3 linked regions of the Homo sapiens genome follow. The protein of the gene in region 2 interacts with the protein of the main gene of each other region in a pairwise test. Each region holds a gene or a part of one and is shown on either strand. Other genes may lie near its edges. The genes, in order: CDHR3, CXorf38 and NFYC.

Evidence for each region.
Region 1: the proteins of CXorf38 (region 2) and CDHR3 interact in binary tests that used the Homo sapiens proteins (3 or more experiments, as listed by UniProt).
Region 3: the proteins of CXorf38 (region 2) and NFYC interact in binary tests that used the Homo sapiens proteins (3 or more experiments, as listed by UniProt).

Annotation. Positions count from the first base shown.
Region 1 is NC_000007.14:106,022,175-106,029,282, forward strand, and holds part of CDHR3 (cadherin-related family member 3 isoform 1 precursor), read left to right. Parts: intron 1-23; coding exon 24-274; intron 275-2,206; coding exon 2,207-2,388; intron 2,389-4,507; coding exon 4,508-4,521; intron 4,522-6,376; coding exon 6,377-6,408; intron 6,409-7,108. UniProt on the Homo sapiens protein: Cadherins are calcium-dependent cell adhesion proteins.
Region 2 is NC_000023.11:40,644,454-40,652,166, reverse strand, and holds the start of CXorf38 (uncharacterized protein CXorf38), read left to right. Parts: upstream 1-4,605; 5' UTR 4,606-4,646; coding exon 4,647-4,862; exon of another isoform or gene 4,863-5,025; coding exon 5,026-5,160; intron 5,161-7,713. Other genes in the region: MED14 (mediator of RNA polymerase II transcription subunit 14), read left to right, coding at 288-361.
Region 3 is NC_000001.11:40,757,676-40,764,783, forward strand, and holds part of NFYC (nuclear transcription factor Y subunit gamma), read left to right. Parts: intron 1-445; coding exon 446-619; intron 620-5,212; coding exon 5,213-5,371; intron 5,372-7,108. UniProt on the Homo sapiens protein: Component of the sequence-specific heterotrimeric transcription factor (NF-Y) which specifically recognizes a 5'-CCAAT-3' box motif found in the promoters of its target genes.

The sequences.
Region 1 (7,108 bases), on a different chromosome or scaffold from region 2:
CCCCTGCATCAAATCTCATTTAGGTAACGTCAACAATCATTTCACCTTCTCTCCCAATGCTGGTTCCAATGTCACACGCCTGCTGCTTACATCTCGCTTTGACTATGCTGGTGGGTTTGATAAGATCTGGGACTACAAGCTACTTGTCTACGTAACTGATGACAACTTGATGTCTGACAGGAAGAAAGCGGAGGCTCTTGTTGAGACAGGAACAGTGACACTGAGTATTAAAGTCATTCCCCACCCAACCACTATCATCACCACGACCCCCAGGGTAAGGGCTTTAGGACCTGGAATCCCCAGGCACATTCCCTTGTGAGTTATGTTGATGGACTTCTTTCCCCGGCCTGGAGGTATGTGGGGTGGACTGAAGAGTTGAGGTATTAGGATGTTGCCAAAAATGGCAACCATGGGCTGGACTGGAGTAGCTGCAGGGTGGCAAAAATCTGGTGAGACCTCAGACTCATAACCGCTAACTCAACCACTAACATTTCCTGTTCTGGTAGAGAAGAGTGTGTTGTTTGTGCAGAGACTTGTGAGAGATCAGACCTCAACCATCTGTGTGGCTTGTGGCACAGGAGCTGATTTCCATGGGCATGCTGCCAGTTGCTACCTTCACAACCCCTCTCTGCTTGTTCAGAAGAGTCTTTGCAAGTCAATATCCATGAAATTAGGTTGCTTGCTTACTGCTGGGTGCTCTTTCCCACATCTTTTGAAGAATCACCAGGTACCAATCTGTACCCTACACCCCACCTCCGCTCCAAAAAAATTCATCCAATCTACAAATATCGATTTAATGCCTATAGTGTGCCAGTCACTTTAGCAAACAAGCCAAAAATGATCCCTGCTCTCAGAAAGCTTATTGTATAGGCGAGTGATTCTCTAAGTGCGGTCCCTAGACCATCAGAATCAGCACCACCTGGAAACTGGTTGGAAATGCAAATTCTCAGGCCCAGCCTAGATTATTAAAGTTATAGGTTACCCAACCATGATCATCACCATGACCTCCAGGGAAGGATGCTGGAACCTGGAATCCCCAACTCTATCCCCTAACCTAATGAATCCGAAGCTCTGGAGGTGGGGTCCAGTGAGCTGTGTTTTCAATCAGCCTTTCAGGGAATTCTAATGTGCATTAAAGTCTGAGAGCCACTGATCTAGAGGGGGAGATAGATTACAAACAAGTATTCAAATTGACAAAGTAAATACAGACTGTGGGAAAGGGTAGGAAGAAAATGACCAGGTGCTATCACAGAATTGGCCTGGAGAAGGAAGGGAGAGCCTTGAATCTGACAACAGGATTATCTTCCCTGCCCCTTGGAGGAACTGGCTTGCATCTATGCTGACTCATCTGTCCCCTTTCTTCCTCCTCCTCTTCCTCCTCCTCCTCCTCCTCCTAGTAGAAGCTGCACCCCTGGTCAGCAGCCTGATACCTGCAGCATGCCAGAAGGAAGATAATCAGAACCTTAGAGAACCCACTATGGAGGTGGCCAGCTTCTTCTCAGAGTCTTGCCAGGAGCTGGTTCATGCTTCTCTCTCCCATGCTCGAGTCAATATGACCCCAGTGAATGGAGGCATATGGCAACCCTAGGACTTTCCTTGTGGGAGGAGCTGGTAGGCTCTCCTGAGTGAGGAGTTCCCACCTTTCTTGGGCTCAGAGCATGACCTGATTGTGACATCTCCAATCCTGAAACCTCCGTAACTTGTTTGTTATCTGTCTCCAGCTCTAGGAAGCAGATGCTGAACTTGAGGCTTTGCTGTGATATCAGCCCACTGCTCTGGCAGTGGCAGCTTGTAGTTGAGAAAACACTGAAAAGCCTACAAGGCATTTAAAAAAACAACTTTCGTGGCTTATGCTGTCTCGGTGAGAGACAATGGCTATATTCGTCCCTGGGTTATGCCCAGATATGGCAGAAAAAAAGCCAATGGAGTTTTTTTTAGCTTTGGGGAAGGGGAAGACAGAGAATAAAATAAGGCCTAGAGTTGTTTTTCAGTTCCCTAAAATTTCTGGGTTTTGATCTAATGGATGTCTGCAAAGACTATAAATAAGGTGATGGGTTGAAGCAGCAAGAACTGTGAGCACACAGATGTCCAACTTATAGAGCAATAACAATAACAAAGAGTGGAATAAACACTCAACACGAGAGAGTGCTGAATGTCAAAATCACTACCACCCTCTACTCACCCTCCCTGCTCTCTGTTGTTCAAGCCCAGGGTCACCTATCAGGTCCTGAGGAAAAACGTTTACTCTCCATCTGCATGGTACGTGCCGTTTGTCATCACTTTGGGCTCCATATTGCTTCTGGGTCTCCTCGTGTACCTGGTCGTCCTATTGGCCAAAGCCATCCACAGACACTGCCCCTGCAAGACTGGGAAGAACAAGGAACCTCTGTAAGTTGCCAGTGGGCTGGGCCCTCTTCCCCACCTCCTTTAGGACACTGTTTCTGGTGACATCAGGAGAAGGAAAAATGGAGAATCAGGATTTCTCTACAAGGCAGGTTGCCTGGAGTGAAGGCAGGAAAAGGAGATACGGGGGAAGGAATCCCAGCTCCCCTCGGTCCTGGTGCACTTTCTTTGTCACCTGCTAGGCCAGGAAACCATCCTTTTGGCTTTCCCTGGCAACCTACTCTGTCCTTGAGGCTCTTAATAAGACTGGGGCATCAACCTTCTGATGACCTTGCCCTGGATAAAATCTTCAGCAAAGCCCTGTTGTAAATAGCGATAGAATATGCCGTGCTCTTATTTGTAGAATATTTAAAGGATAGTATGGAATTAAGGCAAGCACACAAAACCAATAAGGGAATTAAGCTTTTGTCTCCAGTGACTCAGCCGGGTTTTTGTGTGACCAAATAATTCTTGGTGTTTTGCTTGTGGTCTCAGTCTCTCACTCTTAAGGGTTGTAAACGCAGGCCTGTTTTCTCTTTTTCCAGTTTTCAGCTGCCCACTAATATGCCTCTTATTGTGCCAATCTGTGATGTGTCTTTTACTGGCTAAAGTGAGGTAGTAGAGTGACGTGAAGAGAGCACCAAAGAATCACAAACTTCTCCCAGAGCCAAGCTCCTTGATTCTCAGTAGCTCTTACAACTTACAGCTTAGATGGTTCTGAGCCTGAGTTTTGGAGTTAGATGGGCCTGAGCTCAAGTCTTAGCTCTACCATTTTCTTGGAATATGGCTTTGAGCAAGTGACCACCTCTGTGAACTTGAATTTTCTTATTTGTAAAATTAATCAACTAAATGAACAAATGTAAACAAGGCACTTAACTGTATTCCTGATATAGAGTAAATGCTTAGTACACTACCCAGCCAGTTTTTACAAATCTTGTTTCATTATTCTTCACAGATGAGTCCCAATGAGTTCAGGATTCTAGATTCCAAGTTTAGCTCTATGCCCAAGTATCTTGAGGTGTTGGAACCTCTGAGTTCTAGGATCTCTCAATGGCAAAAAGAGGGGGTGATAAGACATGTGTGCCTTTTACGGGTATTTTAAATATTAAATATTAACTGTCAAATAAGAAAATCTATGGATGAAAGACTGTATAAAAGTACAAGGCATTAGAATAAAGATGTGCGTTGCATTTTGCCATATTTATTGCGGAAGTTTGTTGCTATTGGCAACCTTGACTTCAAGGTAAGAAATCCTCGAGCATCTGCTGAAATTAAAAAAGGCATTTTTGTTTGAACTCTATTCACAAATTGATTTTTTTAAAAAAAAACAGCTCTAAAAGAGTAATTGCTTGTAAGGATGGTGGTGTACTGTACTGGGATTTGGATAGAAGTTCTTGAAGAAACAAATCCAATAGACACTGCAACTCTCATGTAATTTATGGCTAAACGTTAAATATGCACCTTGAACCTGGTTCTTTTAACTTATGTTGTAAATATTAATTGTTTTCAACATGGTTGACTTAAAAAAGAAAAACTAGCTAGAAAACCAGACTCAGACTCAACCTCTCTGGAAATTAGTTATACCATATGACAGCCAACTTTGTCAAATAGCAAAGAAGAAAATTAGGGTTACAGAGCTATAGAATCCAAGGTGATCATGGGAAATCTCGTAGGGTCTGAGTCCAGCTCTTCATGTGACAGGAAACCAAAATGTAACTGCCAGCTCTCAAACCTCCCTGTTGTGAGCCAAGCCTTCTGCTCTGCTGGCTCTTGGGGAGAAAGGGATAGGGCAAGAAGACTCGCTGGACAGTCTGACTAGGGCAGGCATGTCCTCACCAGGTTTTCTCATCAGAAACAATGTATTCCCTGAAGTTTATAAGGTGATACTTTTCAACTCATCAAATTCCCAGAACCTCCCTAGTCCAAAGCCAATAGTGATGAAGCTGCTTTGTTCGAAGCAGGCGTGGTGATCTAGTTTTCTTTCTGGCCCCTATCCCTGGCACCTCTTTCAGTCAACCCCTGTATCTCAAAGGGCATAGTTGCCCAAAGAACCCCATGGTGTCATGTGTGTGCCAGTGCAGCATACTTTCAAGTGAATTAATAGCCATTCTTTTTCCCCCCATAGGACAAAGAAAGGAGGTATGTACAGTACCTGTTTCCCTTGTCTGTTGTTTTTTGCTTGCTCTGTTGTGCTACGTAAAAAGGTTCCTACTCGGCAAAGAATCAGGCCGCGATCACATCTTGGAGCATTTTCAGCTGCATCTTCTGTGGCTGGAAGGAAGCGGAGGTCGGTTGCAGCTGGAGAATGGGAAGGGTGGGGGGACAGTGCCTTGGCCTGCCTGGATATCTCAATTTGGTCCTGCCTATGCCCTACCTAGAGCCCTCGCCAATCAGCTCAGCTGAACACCTAGGTCTGTCCCTTGCTGCATGGCACAGGAAGAAAGAACTCTCCGTGTGTTAAATGTAGACAGGACCTGCTTACTGCAGCCCATGGAGGGTGTCCTGAGGACAGCTAATGCTTTGTGCTGGACACAGGCCTCTTTTGAAAGAACAGATAAGGCTGGGCGCAGTGACTCACGCCTGTAATCCCAGCACTTTGAGAGGACGAGGTGGGTGGATCACAAGGTCAGGAGTTTGAGACCAGCCTGGCCAGCATGGTGAAACCCCCGTCTCTACTAAAAATACAAAAAATTAGCCGGGCATGGTGGCACGCACCTGTAGTCCCAGCTACTCGGGAGGCTGAGGCAGGAGAATTGCTTGAACCCAGCAGGTGGAGGTTGCTGTCAGCCAAGATCACGCCACTGCACTCCAGACTGGGCGACATAGTGAGACTCTGTCTCAAAAAAAAAAAAAAGAACAGATAATATTTGATTCCCAGATTCTAATGGATTTGATCATTTCCACAAATTATTTAGGTTAGACTAGTGAGAAGGGGGAGATGAGGGTGGTGAGATGGGCTGAGAGCTGACTGACTTCAGAGAAGTGGGTAAATTGGGAAGGTCCATCTGAGCAGCTCCAGGTCTGAGGAGGTGTCCTGGCTTGGCCTCAAGTAGACTCCAGAGTGTGGGGGAGACAGGACAAAGAATTGGACAGTGTTTTAATTAAAAAAAAAAAAAGTTTGCTTTAATCACTCCATCTACAGGCATGTGTCTGACATGCTTAAGGCATGTCTCAACAGGGTTAGAAATTTGATTATAGTGGTTATTGATCATATTGACAGAGATGATTTTAATAAATGAGATTTTCACAAACTGTCTCTAATCCCACTTTTTAAAAAGGGGATGGGGGCTGGGCATGGTGGCTCACACTTATAATCCCAGCACTCTGGGAGGCCAAGGCTAGAGGATCACTTGAGCCCAGAAGTTCGAGACCAGCTTGGGCAAGATAGTGAAACCCTGTCTGTAGAAAAAAAATTTTTAAATTAGCTGGGTGTGGTAGTGTACGCCTGTAGTCTTAGCTACTGGGGAGATAGCTGAGAGGATCACTTGAGCTCAAGAGGTCAAGGCTGCAGCGAGTTGTGACCGCACTCTAGCCTGGACGACAAGAGTGAGACCCTGTCTTAAAATAAAATAAAATAAAATAAAATAAAATAAAATAAAATAAAATAAAATAAAATAAAATAAAAGGGCTTGGGAATTAATGCACAAAACCCACACCTTATGAACAGAGGTATCCAATCCCATCTTTCTTTCTTATCTTAAAAGCCATGTAAAAGCCAGTTTTCTAGGTCCACTGATAATAAGCTAGAAAAAGAATAAAAAACAACTAAATTGTTCGTATGTTATTGTGTGTGTGTGTATACATATGTGTACGTATTTTTTTCTGAGAAGATGGAAAGTTGTCAAGAAACATATCTATAGACAGAACAATTCTTTGCTGTGTCTGCAAGACTGAGATCGAAGCCTATTTAGGGGAAATACCGTTGTGGAGGTGGAATTTTAAGGTCAATTTACCACCCAAGAAGCTTAACTTCTGCCTGTTCTGTTCTCTGCAGAAACGAAGACTGCAGAGAGAGACGTCGTGGTGGTGAGTATGGGCAGTGTGGGGCACCAGGCATAGACGCTGGGGGATAGGGGCTCCCGTCTCCCCCGAAGGCAGGCCTGCCACAGCCTTGTGGGCATGTTTATCATTCAGGGAGGTGCTTGTGTTTGGCTACTGGAACAGATTGCTGTGTGACGAGCTCCTGATAGAATTTGTTCCCTCCACTGAACATGCCTGCTGATATATTTGCAGAAGAACAGGATTTCATAAATATTGAGTAGTGGTGTTTATTATCTATACCAGCTCTCCACGAGAGTGAGTTGAGGGAGTGAAGCTTAAAGACCAAAACTAGTGCTTCAGCCTCCAGTGAGATTTAAATTTTCTTTCTTTCTTTCTTTCTTTCTTTCTTTCTTTCTTTCTTTCTTTCTTTCTTTCTTTCTTTCTTTCTTTCTTTCTTTTTAAGACACAGTTTCACTCTGTTGCTCAGGCTGGAGTGGAGTAGCACAATCTCGGCTCACTGCAACCTCTGCCTCCTAGACTCAAGCGATTCTCATGCCTCGGCCTCCCAAGTAGCTGGGATTACAGACACGTGCCACCACGCCTGGCTAATTTTTTGTATTATTAGTAGAGATGGGGTTTCACCATGTTGGCCAGGCTGGTCTTGAACTCCTGACCTCAAGTGATCCACCCACTGTGGCCTCCCAAAGTGCTGGGATTATAGGCATGAGCCACTGCGCCCAGCTGA
Region 2 (7,713 bases):
TCTAATGCTACAGTGTTTCTAAACAGAAACTCTAGACATATCTTCCTAAATACAAACCTAACTGGGACTTGCTTGAAGTTTCCTCCTGAGAAAAAAAATCCAAACCAAATATAATCTGATACTTAACACCACAGCTTAATCCCCAATAATCTGGGCAGTTAAAATTGTCTTTTATTTTGATCTTTAAAGTTCTCACTAATTTTAGATTTAATTACCCCTTCCCTTACCGGTGTGTTAACATCTTTCCTGTGTTGTGAATAGCTAATGACCATTTTTCTCTGTTGCAGGTGAATGCACAATATTTGCAGCTGTTCGTGATTTAATGGCTAATCTTACACTGCCCCCTGGTGGGCGTCCATAGACACTATTGTTTTTAAACCAGGAAGGCTGACAGATGAGACAACAAAAAAAATCTGAATTCAGCCTTCAGTTTAAAAAAGGAAAAGGACTTTTTTTTTAAACTTTAAGAGCTAAATATTCTAAACTGGCAAAAATTTTCAGGGTGCACTTCTTTCATCAAAATGATCATCCATCTTTTGTATAATGAACTTGTATAGTGTGTTTAAATGGGACACATTTCAAAGGAAATAAATCAGTGTCCGTTTGCCAGTAATAAATTTAATATTCTGTTTTATACTATAAAGTTATGAAAATGCCAAACTTGTTTATTTAATTGTTTTCTTATGTTTTGGGTGTAATAGTCCTTTTTTGGTTTTTGTTTTGTTTTTTAAGGCAGGTCTGTCATTTTTGAATACTGTAAAACTGTGATAAACTTTATATTGAAGCTGTATTTTAATATGACCGCTTTGAATCCTTACATGAAATGTTCTGGGAGTTGTTATAAACACACCCCAAGGAAGCAATATTTAATAAAACTAGGTCAAAAACAAAACAAAACAGTGACACTCACTTGTGTGTATATAAACTCTAGAGACATCTTAGGCCCTCCCTTCATCTTTAACCTGGTGGATGGAGCCAGTTATTAATTTATAATAATACATGTCTGAAATTTGACCAAAAACATCTTCTTTATGTCAAGGTTAATATATTTTCTTCAGACATTCCTAACTTGACTAGTGGTTAACATTTAGCACCTTGGTTGTCTTTCAATATATAGGATTTGGGTGAAAAATAAGGAACTTAGTCTTTGAGAAGGGACAGTATGTGGTTCGTATTGATCAAGGATCCCAAATAATGCAATCATTCTCATCTGTTGAGGATGTGGGAACTTTTCTGTCAGGAAAATTTAGTTTACAGAATACTTCTGCATACAACATTAATTAGGAAACAAAGAACTTTAATGCTGTACCTCTGCATGAAGTTTCTGTGAGCTTTCTTTATCTTGCTTAACTTATCCTCCTTTCCTTCCCCACCAAAATTGGGATTGTTCTAAACAATTTCAATTTAATTCATTGTCAACAAAACGATAGAATGTTTTGCTTGGAAGAAACCTGGTCCATTCCCCTCATTGTGAAGAATCCCGAATCCTGGGCCTGTCCAGGGTCAAATGGAGTTTTTGGTATTAATACATCTCTGCAGGGTTTCTTTTTGGAGCACTGTGCTGTCTTTCCTAGTCAGTCAGGGACTTTTTTAAGCTTCAAAGAACATGGTCTGATGCAAAGGTCTTCTACCGACTTCATGGTATTTAGGAAAAATTTTTAAGTGATAATACCATGCCGAGTTACCTGGTCACTGTAATACTGGTTCTCCATTAAAATGTAGATGCTTTGTCTAATTCCACTTCAAGATGATTTAATTGAGCTTCTATAACTATCAACTATCAAATTCTAGTTTCAAGTATCTCACTGTACCTATATCATATCTGTTCTCAACTTTGTTTGATTCTCCACTCATTTTCAATCAGAGTTGAAGCCTTCTTTGCCTTTCTTCTTTGTCTTATTTCTGCCTTCATCTCCCACTTCTCACCCAACTCTGCCACTGTTCAGGAGCAGTTGACTAAACTTTTATCCTTCCTTTAACTTAATCTTTTTATCCTTCTGTTTTTAGTTCTTACAGTGGTAATCACATCAGTTTGGCAATCTAAGATGTCTTTATCAAGGGTCAGCCCTTTTCTATTTGGAGCTGAATCTTTTCTTTCATGTAGAAATCTACATGTATATACAAGAAATGTATTTTTATCTGCAGGATAATATTGTTTCAAATAATTTTATTAAGAGTTAACTTTTTAGGTATTTTCCCTTTTAATGTGGTTTTGAAATGTTAATTGCATTTTTACACATGATGCATTCAGTGGACACTCTTTTTTCCTAATTATAACTCATCTCTGAATGCATTGTGCCAATCAAGAGTAAGATAGGATTCAGTGCGCAAAATTTGCTTTTGATGCTTATTAAGAGTAAACCCATGAATTTGAATTTTTATATTATGCTTGGTACTTGGAATTGATATATACCTTATTAAAGCTTGAAAACATTTAGCATTTGAATAGTAAGTTTCATCACAAATCATGTCTTTTGCCTCTTTTGTTACCCAGGTTCGATCAAGGGGACTGGATGCCCAAGTGATTTTCTCTAATAATCGGGTTGGGACTTAACTTTAAGGTGTTTTCAATGTGATTTTAGTATTTACAGTAATAAATAAAATTTATACAAAGTTTCAGAGAACTACCAACTCTCTAGTTAATTTTGATGAAGATGTTTTCATTAATAGTCTGGTTTAGTATTAATTTAACCTTGAAATAAGAAATTGGTCCTGATTTGCCACCTTCATTTTTCCATCTGCTGAAATGCCATTTCAGAATGTATAAAAGTACTTTCAGAATTAGAAGAAAAGTGAGAGCTTCAGCAGAACGTGTCAAGTCGCTAATAACAGGAGTCGAACCTTATGTTTGAAAATTAACTGAGTGAGTTAAGTGCAAGCATAAACTAAAATTTATATGACTTTGAATTTAAGAACCACTAATAACTGTGTTCTAATTAACACAGTAATCTGTTCAGCCAAAGGATACTAACAGCCATTCTTTGGACTGTGGTTAATTTGATAACTTCAAGAAGTTATAACTTTGCTACCCTGGATTCTGATGCAATTTCAATATAAAAAGTTGTTCCTTTCATAGTTTTTCCCCCCAAAAGAAGTGCCTATTACATTTTACCTTAATGTTTATTTATCATCCAAGTGTTCTTGATATAAAATCAGTATACAGAAAATTTTAAGAGAACTTACATTCAAGGGACATAGAGGGAAAATGTTAATGTGTATTTCATTGTTTCTTGTGGAATTTTTTTTTCATTCGGTTTGAGAATGGACAGTGTGTCTAAGGATGTGATTTAAATTTACTTAGGATGGATTTAGCATTGAGGTTATTAAGACAAAGTTAGCAGAGGCCAGCCAGCACTGTGCTGCACAACTCCAGGAACTCCATGGTATGCTCACAATTTTCTGCAAGTTGCCTCCACTTCCAAGTGGCCAGTGATTTGTTAAAATACCTTGCCCAAGAATATAACTGATTGATGAAAGGGCATATTTAGGTCAATATAAAATAATAGCAAGTATTTACTGAGAGCTTACTGTGTGCTAGGCATTTTCTTAATATTTCAATGTGTATTTAATCCTCACAACAACCCAATGTGGTAGGTTATTGATATCCTCTTCTTAAAAATGAGTAAATGGAGGCCCAGAGAAATGTAATTTGCCTGAGATCAAATTAAGGTTGCTTAAGATCAAACTGCTAAGAAGGGGCAGTTTGAGTCTGAGCTAGTGCTCCTAAACACTGGACATTTTTGCTGTGAACCACAGTCGGGAAGGTTTAATGTTTAGACTCTTTCCTCAGAGGCTTTTAACTACACACAATTTTGACATGTTTTCCAAGCTCAGAAAGCTCATTAAAAACAACTAAAACTGACCTGACTTGTCACTTGGAGTTGACAATCCCAGTGCCTTCTGACCTTTGTGGCACTTCTTTGGAACTTAAATCAGACTTCCATGTGCAAGGAGCACTAATTATCATATAATCAAGAATACTAGATAATTATCGTCTAACCTTTGCTAGGTGCTTCAGGATGCCCTTATCTGGCTCAGGTGTGCAGCCTTCTAGAATCCAAGTGATGTGTTGCCCTAAACAGGCAAACGCCCCCTTCTGGGTGGTCCAGTGGCGGGGGATTTTGAGTTTTGGGTTAGCTTGGCACACCGCAGGCAGCCAGCGGTCACGTTTCACTAATACCTCAATTTGCTACAGCTGGTCTGTGGGCTTAGGAACCAGTAACTCTAGAATTGTATAATGCAAAGAACATACACGATTCAAGCAATGTGCCCTGAGCACCTTGTACATCTGGACAATAAAAAAAAGTTAAAACAGAAGTGCCCTACATTAGGAGAGGGAGTCGAATCGGATGCTGACAGGGTCTCTGTTTGGGGGACGAAGAGGGCCTAAGGGTTTCAAATAGTTAACTGCTTCCCCAAGCACCAAAGTTGTTAGACGTCAGACGTCAGACGTCACCCAAGTGGGGTGGAGCCGACGTGCCCCGGAAGTCAAGATGCCCCGCCCCGGGATCGGTGGCACCGCGCCGCGCAGGCGCAGGCGTCGCTGCCGCCGGCGCAGGCGCCGCTGCCTCGGGTACTTCCCAGGCTCCGCGCCTGCGCACTGCCGTCCGCCACGCCCCGCAACCTCCTGGTTCCAAGTGGGAGACATGGTGCTGTCGGAGCTAGCGGCGCGCCTCAACTGCGCCGAGTACAAGAACTGGGTGAAGGCGGGCCACTGCCTGTTACTGCTGCGCAGCTGCCTGCAGGGTTTCGTCGGCCGCGAGGTGCTCTCCTTCCACCGCGGCCTACTCGCCGCAGCCCCCGGCCTGGGGCCCCGCGCCGTCTGCCGCGGCGGCTCACGGTGCAGCCCTCGCGCCCGCCAGGTGAGCACCTGGCTCGGGGCCTTGACCACCGCCCCCACCCCACCCCTCCTCATCCCCGTTCCTGTCCCAGACCCAGAGCGCAAGTGTCCTGTTCCCTCCGCGATGCGGGGCCCACCGCGACGTCCCTCCCTCCTGGGCCCCTCCTCACCGCCGCCCCCTGTAGTTTCAGCCTCAGTGTCAGGTGTGCGCTGAATGGAAAAGGGAGATTTTGAGACATCATGTCAACAGAAATGGAGATGTGCACTGGGGAAACTGCCGGCCGGGCCGCTGGCCCGTGGACGCCTGGGAGGTGGCCAAGGTAAGCGCCTGAGGCGGGGACGGAAGGAGGAAGCGGCGGGTCACCCAGCACTCGGGGTGGCTATCTGGTCTTGTGGTCGCCGGGGCCTCATAAACAGATGCAGAGAGAGAGATTGATCAAGGGTCTAGGCGGTTCAGGGGTGGTATGCGGGACCCAACCCAGCTTAGTGAAGTAGAAGCTTTCTTCTACCCGTCTGCTTCCTGAGGGCATTTGAGTTTGTTACCCCTGCTTGGAAAGTTACAGGAAAGAGTTCTACAAGAGATACTGGGGCAAGATGCAGAGCGAGCATCATGAGCACAGGCAGGGAGGGAGGGAGACTCTTGTGTGGCCTGTTTGAGGGTAAGGCTCGCTGAACAGCTCATCAGCTCTTTTTTGGCTATAGGATGCCGTAAGGATGACAGAGTAAGCCAAGGGAAGTTAGGGCTAAAATAGCACCTTAAGTGCCCAGTTAAAGGCACTTTGGGTAGCTGGGAATGGGGTAGGCAGCCGGATCTGTCTTCAGATCTTGGCAATGTCACTTACTAAGTAGATCGAGTAGGAAATTTTTTTGCCCAGTAAGGGACGGAGAGGGACAGCCAGAAGTGGCTTCCTAACACAAATTGACTTTAGCAGTCAGTCTACATGCCAGTAGTTATCAGCAGGCACAGGGTGGGCACTGGAAAGGAGCAGTGCCTGGGAAGCAGATGATCTGAGTCCTGGATCAGCTGCCGTGGTGTGACACTGGGCCAGCTTGTGCTCCCCAATCTCAAAAATGAAAGGACGGCCGGGCGCAGTGGCTCACGCCTGTAATCCCAGCACTTTGGGAGGCCGAGGCGGGCGGATCATGAGGTCAGGAGATCGAGACCACGGTGAAACCCCGTCTCTACTAAAAATACAAAAAAATTAGCCGGGCGCAGTGGCGGGCGCCTGTAGTCCCAGCTACTCGGGAGGCTGAGGCAGGAGAATGGCGTGAACCCGGGAGGCGGAGCTTGCAGTGAGCGGAGATCGCGCCACTGCACTCCCGCCTGGGCGACAGAACGAGACTCCGTCTCAAAAAAAAAAAAAAAAAAAAAAAAAAAAAAAAAAAAAAAAAAAAATGAAAGGAATTGGGGCCGGGCGCGGTGGCTCATGCCTGTAATCCCAGCACTTTGGGAGGCCAAGGTGGGAGGATGGCTTGAGCTCAGGAGTTCAAGACCACCCTGGATAACATGGCAAAACCCCGTCTCTACAAAAAAATACAAAAATTAGCTGGGTGTGGTGGTGCATGCCTGTAGTCCCAGCTACTCAGGAGGCTGAGGTGAGAGGATCACTGGAGCCTGGGAAGTCGAGGCTGCAGTGAGCCGTGATCACACCACTGCATTCCAGCCTGGGTGACAGAGCAAGACCCTGTCTTAAAAAATTGAACTGTATCAGGGGTCCCCAGACTTTTGGGTATCACGAGCCGGTAAACCCACCACACCTACACCATCTTCCCCATTTTTTTCCACTGCAGCCATAGAGTTGCTGACTTCTACTTCTACCTAGAAAAGAGAAAAAAAACAGAAAGAAAGAAAACTCTGCCCTTTACAATGCCTGTCCCTCATCTGTTTGGTCTGCGTTGCTGCTTTCACACCATTGGAATCCTCTTGTAGCCTGTACTACCTCCTTATACCACTCTTTGCTCCTCTTGGTTGCTGTCACCTACAGACCTTCTAGTCCAACCCCATCCTCTCAGTTTCTGGGCTCCTGATTCCAGCATCCTCTGCTTCACTCCCCCTCAGCCTCCGGCTTGCATGCCCACACCCTGGACCTTGGCACAGAAAGTCTCAGTGTCTAACATCCTGCTGGCCTTTGGCACACTTATTCATGCACCCCTGCCCCCAACCCTGTGCCCCATACTACTTCCGCCTCTTTGAGGCTTCCACTGCTTCCTGAATACCCAGCACCCTCTGTCCTCCTGCCTGCCTTTGTCACCTCAGCTAGCCCAGATTCCATGGCCCATCATTATAATCCGTCCCTTGCTGTTATCTCAGCTTTTTTTTTCTCCTTTCTCTGAACTTGCCTGGCCCAACTCCAGTCCTGATGACATTTTCTGCTTCTGATTAGTGGGAAAGAATCTCACAAGGGAACTGACTGGTTTCACTTTCATTCTTGATCATGAGCCCCAGCGGTCTGGCCACATCTCTCTCTAGGCTTCAGTTTCTGGAGACTACTACTTTTCCCTGGCAAATCCCTGCTCCCGTTCCTCCGCCCTTGCTCATGCTTCACGGAATTGATGGAGGCCCTTGGACATACATAGTTGTCTCTCCTTATCCATGGGGTATTGCTTCCAAGACCCCCAAGGATACCAAAATCCACAGATGCTCAAGTCCCTGATATAAAATGATGTATGTGGTATTTGCATATTACTTACATACATTCTCCTATGTACTTTAAATCATCTCTAGATTACTTATAATACTTGATAGAATGTAAGTGCTATGTAAATAGTCGTTATGCTATATTTTTAAAAAATTTCGATTACTTTTTACTGTTGTATTATTTTTCTGAGAATTTTTCATCCACAGTTGGTTGATTCTATGAATGCGGAACTCG
Region 3 (7,108 bases), on a different chromosome or scaffold from region 2:
GCTAAAACGAGAAGAGTGCTGCCTATTTGGGAGATTGGGACCAGGCCTGAGAGGCATGATGTTTGGGTAGCATCTTCCCAACACTTGCAATTAGCACTGTTCTCAGATCACAGGCCTTGACAGCATTTACTGACAAGCACTGCTGGTGTGTGGTTTTTAGTTACGGTACTTATTTGCCCGTTTGCAACTTATCATGCAATGGGTGATTATTTCGTACTTCAGAAATTGGCTGTATGTTTTGTGAAGCCTATAGGATCTGTTATTTTTAGTTTGATTTAGCATAACTGGTCTCTTTGAATTCCACTTTCCTTTGGCTTCAAATGTGGAGAGCTCAGCATTCAGCAGGCAACTGCACATAGCCTGTTTGGGGGAAGAGTGGAAATTCACTGTGGCGGCTGCTGAGTTGGTTCTTTTCCTCTTACCTGCCTCTCTTTCCACCCAACAGGAGGAGGTGCGCCAGTCTGTAACTCCTGCCGAGCCAGTCCAGTACTATTTCACGCTGGCTCAGCAACCCACCGCTGTCCAAGTCCAGGGCCAGCAGCAAGGCCAGCAGACCACCAGCTCCACGACCACCATCCAGCCTGGGCAGATCATCATCGCACAGCCTCAGCAGGGCCAGGTCTGTGAGCTGCTGAGGATGCCCATCCAGCAAGACAGTGCCCCTTAGGTTTTTGGATGGGCAGAGCTTGATGAGGGCAGAGAGGCAGCCAGATCATTATAGAGCACTGGATTTAAAGTCTGGAAACTGGAACTTTTCCCCAGATTCAGCTACTGGGGTGAGATGTTACCCTAATCTCTCTGGACCCTGTTTTTCTCAAAGGTCAAATGAGGAAAGTGTACTAGACAGTATGTTCTCCAGGATCCCTATTAGCTCAGAAATTTTAGAAGGGAAAAAAAAATGTCTGAAATGCCTTATGAAGAGTAGAGGTGCTAAAGTGAACTCCATGCCTGCTGTCTGTGTGTCTGTGTGAGAAGTGGAATTTGTGCCCTTAAAGGGAGAGATTAGGTATCATTGCCAAGTTGCATACTCCTTCTCCCCGTCATTTCTCTGTCCCATATTTGTGTTAAGTGACCTTCTCTTTTTACGATAGTAATCAGAGGACTCTTTCTCTCCCCAGTAGTAGTGTTAAGAGCAGTAGCATTCATGTTTGTTGGGGGTCATGTGAGGCTGCAGAGAACTCTGTACTATGAGCTCTGAATCCAAATTCTCTGTCAATCATTATTTATTCATCAAACACTGAGCATCCTCTGAGGGTAAAGTTCTGTGCTATGTATTGGGGATACAAGCATGAATAAAACAGTCCTTATTTTCAAGGAATTCACAATTTAGTTGGGGATACAAATACTTAAAGGTTGTACCACCACGTGGGAATGTGTACAGGGTGTTAAAGGAACACATTAAAAGAAGTACCTTGGCTCAGCGCAGTGGCTCATGCCTGTAATCCCAACACTTTGGGAGGCCAATGTGGGAGGAACCCAGGAGTTTGAGGTTACAGTGAGGTAGGATCATGCCACTGCACTTCAGCCTGGGCAGCACAGCAAGACCTCTTCTTTAATTAAAAAAAAAAAAAAAAGGCAGGGGCATGTGGTGGCTCATGTCTGTAATTCCAGCACTTTGGGAGGCCGAGGCAGGAGGATTGCTTGAGCCCACGTGTTCAAGACCAGCCTGGGCAACATGGTGAGACCTTGTCTCCACCAGAACATCAGAACATTAGCCAGCCATGGTGGCATGCTCTTATGGCCCCAGCTACTTAAGAGGCTGAGTTGGGAGGATCGCTTGAGCCAAGGAGGTCAAGGCTACAGTGAGCTGTGATTGTGCCATTGCACTCCAGCCAGGGTGACAGAGCAAGATCCTGTCTCAAAAAAAAAACAAAAAAAAGTATATGTGTGTGTGTGTGTGTATGTGTGTGTGTATTATATATGTGTGTATATATATGTATATGTGTGTGTATGTATGTAGGGGAGGGGATGAGTAGCTGAGAAAGATGTGAACGAGGTGGTCAGATAATGTTTCTGAAGGGAATAATATGAGTCTTGGGGAACAGTGGAAATTAATCAAAGAAAGTGGGAAAGGGTGGTATTGCCAGTAGAGGGCACAGCACAGGCAAAGGCTCAGAGGTGAGAAACAGTACAGGGGGCCGTAGGAAAGTAGTCAGCGTAGGGGACCATCTACGCAAGTTTGGAAAGATAGATAGTAAACACATCCTGGACAGCCTCGTATATTCTAATAAGGAGCTGAGTTTGCCTAGAAGAAAAAAAAATGGAGTAGAGGTAGATTGATTGATTGATGTTTTTTTAAAGATAAGTTCTCACTTCGTCACTCAGGCTGGAGTGTAGTAGCACAATCATAGCTTACTGCAGCTTCAAACTACTGGGCTCAAGCAGTCCTTCTGCCTCAGCCTCCCGAGGAGCTGGGACTCCCAGGCATGTGCCACCACACCTGGATAATTTTTAATTTTTTTGTGGAGATGGGGTCTCATTATGTTTCCCAGGCTGGTCTCAAACTCCTGGCTTTATGCCATCCTCCCACCTTGGCCTCCCACAGTGGTGGGATGACAGGCATGAGCCACCATGCCCAGTTAGGAGGTAGATTTAAGTAATTATGATTTGGCCAGGTGCGGTGGCTCACACCTATAATCCCATCACTTTGGGAGGCCAAAGCAGGAGGGTCGCATGGGCCCGGGAGTTGGAGACCAGCCTGGGCAATATGGCAAGACCTTGTCTCAAAAACAAACACACAGAGAATTAAAAATAAGTAATTATGGCTGGGCGTAGTGGCTCACACCTGTAATCCCAGTACTTTGGGAGGCCGAGGTGGGCGGATCACAAAGCCAGGAGTTCAAGACCAGCCTGGCCAATATGGTGAAACCCCATCTCTACTAAAAATACAAAAATTAGCCGGGCGTGGTGGCGGGCGCCTATAGTCCCAGCTACCCGGGGAGGCTGAGGCAGGAGAATCTCTTGAACCTGGGAGGCGGATGTTGCAGTAAGCTGAGATCGTGCCACTGCACTCCAATCTGGGTGACAGAGCGAGACTGTCTCAAAAAAAAAAAAAGGTAATTATGATTTTAGGATTTATTCTCTGCTCATTTTACTTATCCATATAACAAAAATGTATTGAGTGCTTGTTCTATGCCAGACACTGTGCTAGGCAGGAGGGTTCAAAGATAATGGCTGCTCAGTCACTGGCTCAAGGCCTCGACTGTATCATGATGCCTAAGGGACCTTCTTTGGCTAATGCTTGTGCCTCTGCAGTGGTGAAAACTTTACCTGCCAAAGGCTTTATCCCTTTACAGAATGAACTTAGAGGGAGTCTGCCAAGGGCAGGCTCTGATTGGCTGATCATCCTAAGAAGCTCATGGCTGTTGTGCCCTGACAGCAGGGCACACCATACATGATTTGACAGCTGCCATGCTAACACAAGCCCTCATTTTCCTGAAATGATTTAGAAATACCTTGGAAATCCTCTCGGGAAAATTGGGTTGATACAGTACAGTGATGAGTTGGCAGCATGCATTTCTTTTTAGTCAGCGAGAATTTCATCTGTGCTCCTCTCTGCCAACCCAGACGTGCTCAGCTTGGAGCTGATAAGGCTTGTGAGGATGGTGAAGTTGGTCCTTCCCAGCATTTCCTGGCTGTTGTTTCACCATCCTGCTGCTTCAGGGTGGCCTTGTGCTGTGTCACACCTCCCTGGACCCGTAGTGATGGCTATTTCAAGTTGAGTGCAAATATCCTTCGTAGGACAGAATACATATGTATTAAAGCAGAGTTGGAAAGAATGCATATTTTGGTAAAATTAATCCTGTGTTTTCTGTCATAAATTGAAAACTTATTTCTGGAGGTTGGGAATAGGCTGAGTTGAAAATTGTGGTACAAGAATGGAAGAAATGTTTTCTGTTAGCCTAGCCCACTGCATGTACTTTTAGAACACTCTGTCGTCTTTCTTTTTGGCCCTCCTCCAGTTTATAGTAATTTCTCCGTAGTAATCCCTTGAATCTCATCTGTCGTTCCCAGAACACATCCCCTTCCCTTGTAACTTTGGATGCATAGTTGTAATTTTCAGTAACCTATGCAGTCAGAATTAAGAACATCAGAATAGCAACATCGGTTGAAGTTTATGATTCATTGAGAGTTCCATAGTCTTCTTATTGAGGTGATTAATTCAAAGTGAGGAGAGATAGTGATGGAATTCAAGTCAGGGATTGGGTGTACAGGTGTAGTTTAAAAGGCTCCACCCACGCCCACACCCCCGCCACCCCCCATCACTACCACCACCAGATGAGCCCAGATAGGCTCACTGCTCTAGGTAACCTGTAAAAGTCACAAACAGTACTAAAGGTTTGAGATTTGAAAGAATAATTGACCCTTTTGGCAGCTTGTGTCTTTACCGTCTCAAAAGAGTACATTTCATAGGACTACAACCATTGTGTGTGAGAGACAGAATCTGCCAAGTCATACACATTGGGCAGAAATTTCTTAAATCTGAGATTGCTATTTTTAGAAAGTTAGAGTTCTTGCTTTCTTAAATTCTATTAATTAGGGGTAGACTTAGTTAAGAGTCTGTGTCTTAACAGTGCCCAGTGAGTTAGCAGTGTTTGCTCTCCTTTGGGAAGCCATACTGTGGTCCAGAGCAGCCATCTGGCCAGTGTGGGCAGGAATTGCTCTGCAGCTTGAATGGGGTGAGAGCCAGCGTGCACTAGGGCCCGCCTTGGAGATGCACCCCTGTGCTTTATTTTTCTCTCAGTGTCTTACATGCCTAAGAAAGAGCACATGACCCTGAACTAAATAAATTCATACTGACCCTTTCCATTTAATGTTCCCCTCCAAATTCACCTGCCCCAGACTTGACTTTGGCTATTTCTGAAGTAAACGGTCATGGTTGCTTTTGATTTTTTCTGTAGTGTATGTGCCTTATCACTAAAGGGGCTGTGAAAAGTTGCAGCATTTGGGGCACAGAGATTTATGTTTGGGACCCATGCAAATATTTGTACTGTGAGCCTAAAAATATTTTTGGTTTTTCTTTCGTTTTGGAGAGTAACTTCAGCAATGCTGTAAACCCAGAGGACTCTGTAGGTTATTACTAGTACTGAGATGACCTTAGGCATTCATGGAGAGGGTTTGCTCCCAGCACATTGCTCGTTATTAACCTCTCGGTAATCCTGTGGGCTCTGAGCCTGAACTCACGCAGCATTCTCATAACTCTTCCTTTCAGACCACACCTGTGACAATGCAGGTTGGAGAAGGTCAGCAGGTGCAGATTGTCCAGGCTCAGCCACAGGGTCAAGCCCAACAGGCCCAGAGTGGCACTGGACAGACCATGCAGGTGATGCAGCAGATCATCACTAACACAGGAGAGATCCAGCAGATCCCGGTGAGTCCTGCCCTGAGGTCTGTCTTTACAACTTTATAGAAGGAAATACTTAAAGATATATATACCTTGATATATATATGTATATCTCTATATATACCTTGATATGTATATCTATAGCTATATATATACCTTGATATATATATCTATAGCTATATATATACCTTGATATATATATGTATGTCTCTATATATACCTTGATATGTATATCTATAGCTATATATATACCTTGATATATATATCTGTAGCTATATATATACCTTGATATATATATAGAGATATATATCACACGCATGCATAATCCTTTTTTTCTTTTTAGGAGACAGGTCTTGCTGTGTCACTCAGACTGATGAAGTGCAGTGGCTTGATCTCAGCTCACTGCAGCTTCCGCCTCCCAGGTTCAAGCGATTCTCCTGCCTCAGCCTCCCGAGTAGCTGGGATTATAGGCACGTGCCACTATGCCCGGCTGATTTTTGTATTTTTAGTAGAGATGGGGTTTCACAGTGTTGGCCAGGCTGGTCTCTAACTCCTAACCTCAGGTGATCCGCCCGCCTCGGCCTCCCAAAGTGCTGGGATTACAGGCATGAGCCATCACGCCCAGCCCTCAGTACTTATTTATATATATGCGTGTGTGTGTTTGTTTTGTTTTTAACCTATATGCCCAGTGTTCCTGACCACAACTTGCTTCACTGTGTTTGTTCCCTGCTTTCCTTTAATCTAGGTTCAGGTTCACCACGATTGGGCGGCTTCTCTCGATTTCCCCTCATTCTACCTATGCAGGGAAATCATTGTAACCACTACCCATGCCAAGGCCCAAAGGCCCTGTGAGGCAGTCCTGTATTTGATTAGCAGAGGATAAGAGGGAGGCGTATAGGGAAGGCCATAAATACACTTGTTGCATATTCATGAGTCAGTTCCCAGTGGAGCCTGCAGCAAAGTGTATTTTTGGCTTTCATATAACTTATCTATTCCTTTACTGTGGACTGCTGCTTCCTGTGTGCCTTGAGGGATTTCATTTCTTAGATTTGTTGGCTTTTTTATTTGTACTCCTTTTGTAAAATGTGTCCTTGTCTTAACACTTGCAGTCTTTACATTGGTCATTTTGACCCCCCAAAACTGGAAAGTGAGTGAAACAGAGCAGTCCTTCTATTCCCTGCCCTTTGCCATTTTTGTCATAAATGAAACGTAGGCAGGTATAGAAACTCACGTAGACTTGGTTAACCACTTCCTCTGTGAAAATAACTCTAAAAGTATCCTGAGATCAGTTTAGGAATTGTTCTTCATCTGAAGTTAACATAGTAATAGGCCAAGAGAAAGCTTAGGAAAGTGGAGTGTGTATGTCTCTTTCTCTACCTCTCTCACGTGTGCTTACGATACCCAGGATTGCAGATGACTGAGCTCTGCCTTGCTTCATTGTTTCAGTCCTCAACCCCAAGATTTCTGTTGAATGGTTCTCATTTTTGCAAGCGAAGGCACCACCACAGGTTCATTTAAGACAGAGAAGAGTTCCACCTTGCAGATACTTTAACTCTCTGGGGCACAGAGCTTTAGCCCAGAAGATTTGTTGCAGAATTCACTACTTCATCTTCACTGGCTCAGGCACCTTCTGTAGGAGTCTTCATTTCCAGACTCTTTAGGCAGCTCATTGGAATGTTCCTAATAGTGATGAGCTTCAGGAAGGAAACTTTATTTCCCTTTCAAAAACCCAGAGCTTATTTTCTCTGTAATTAATGTAAAAAA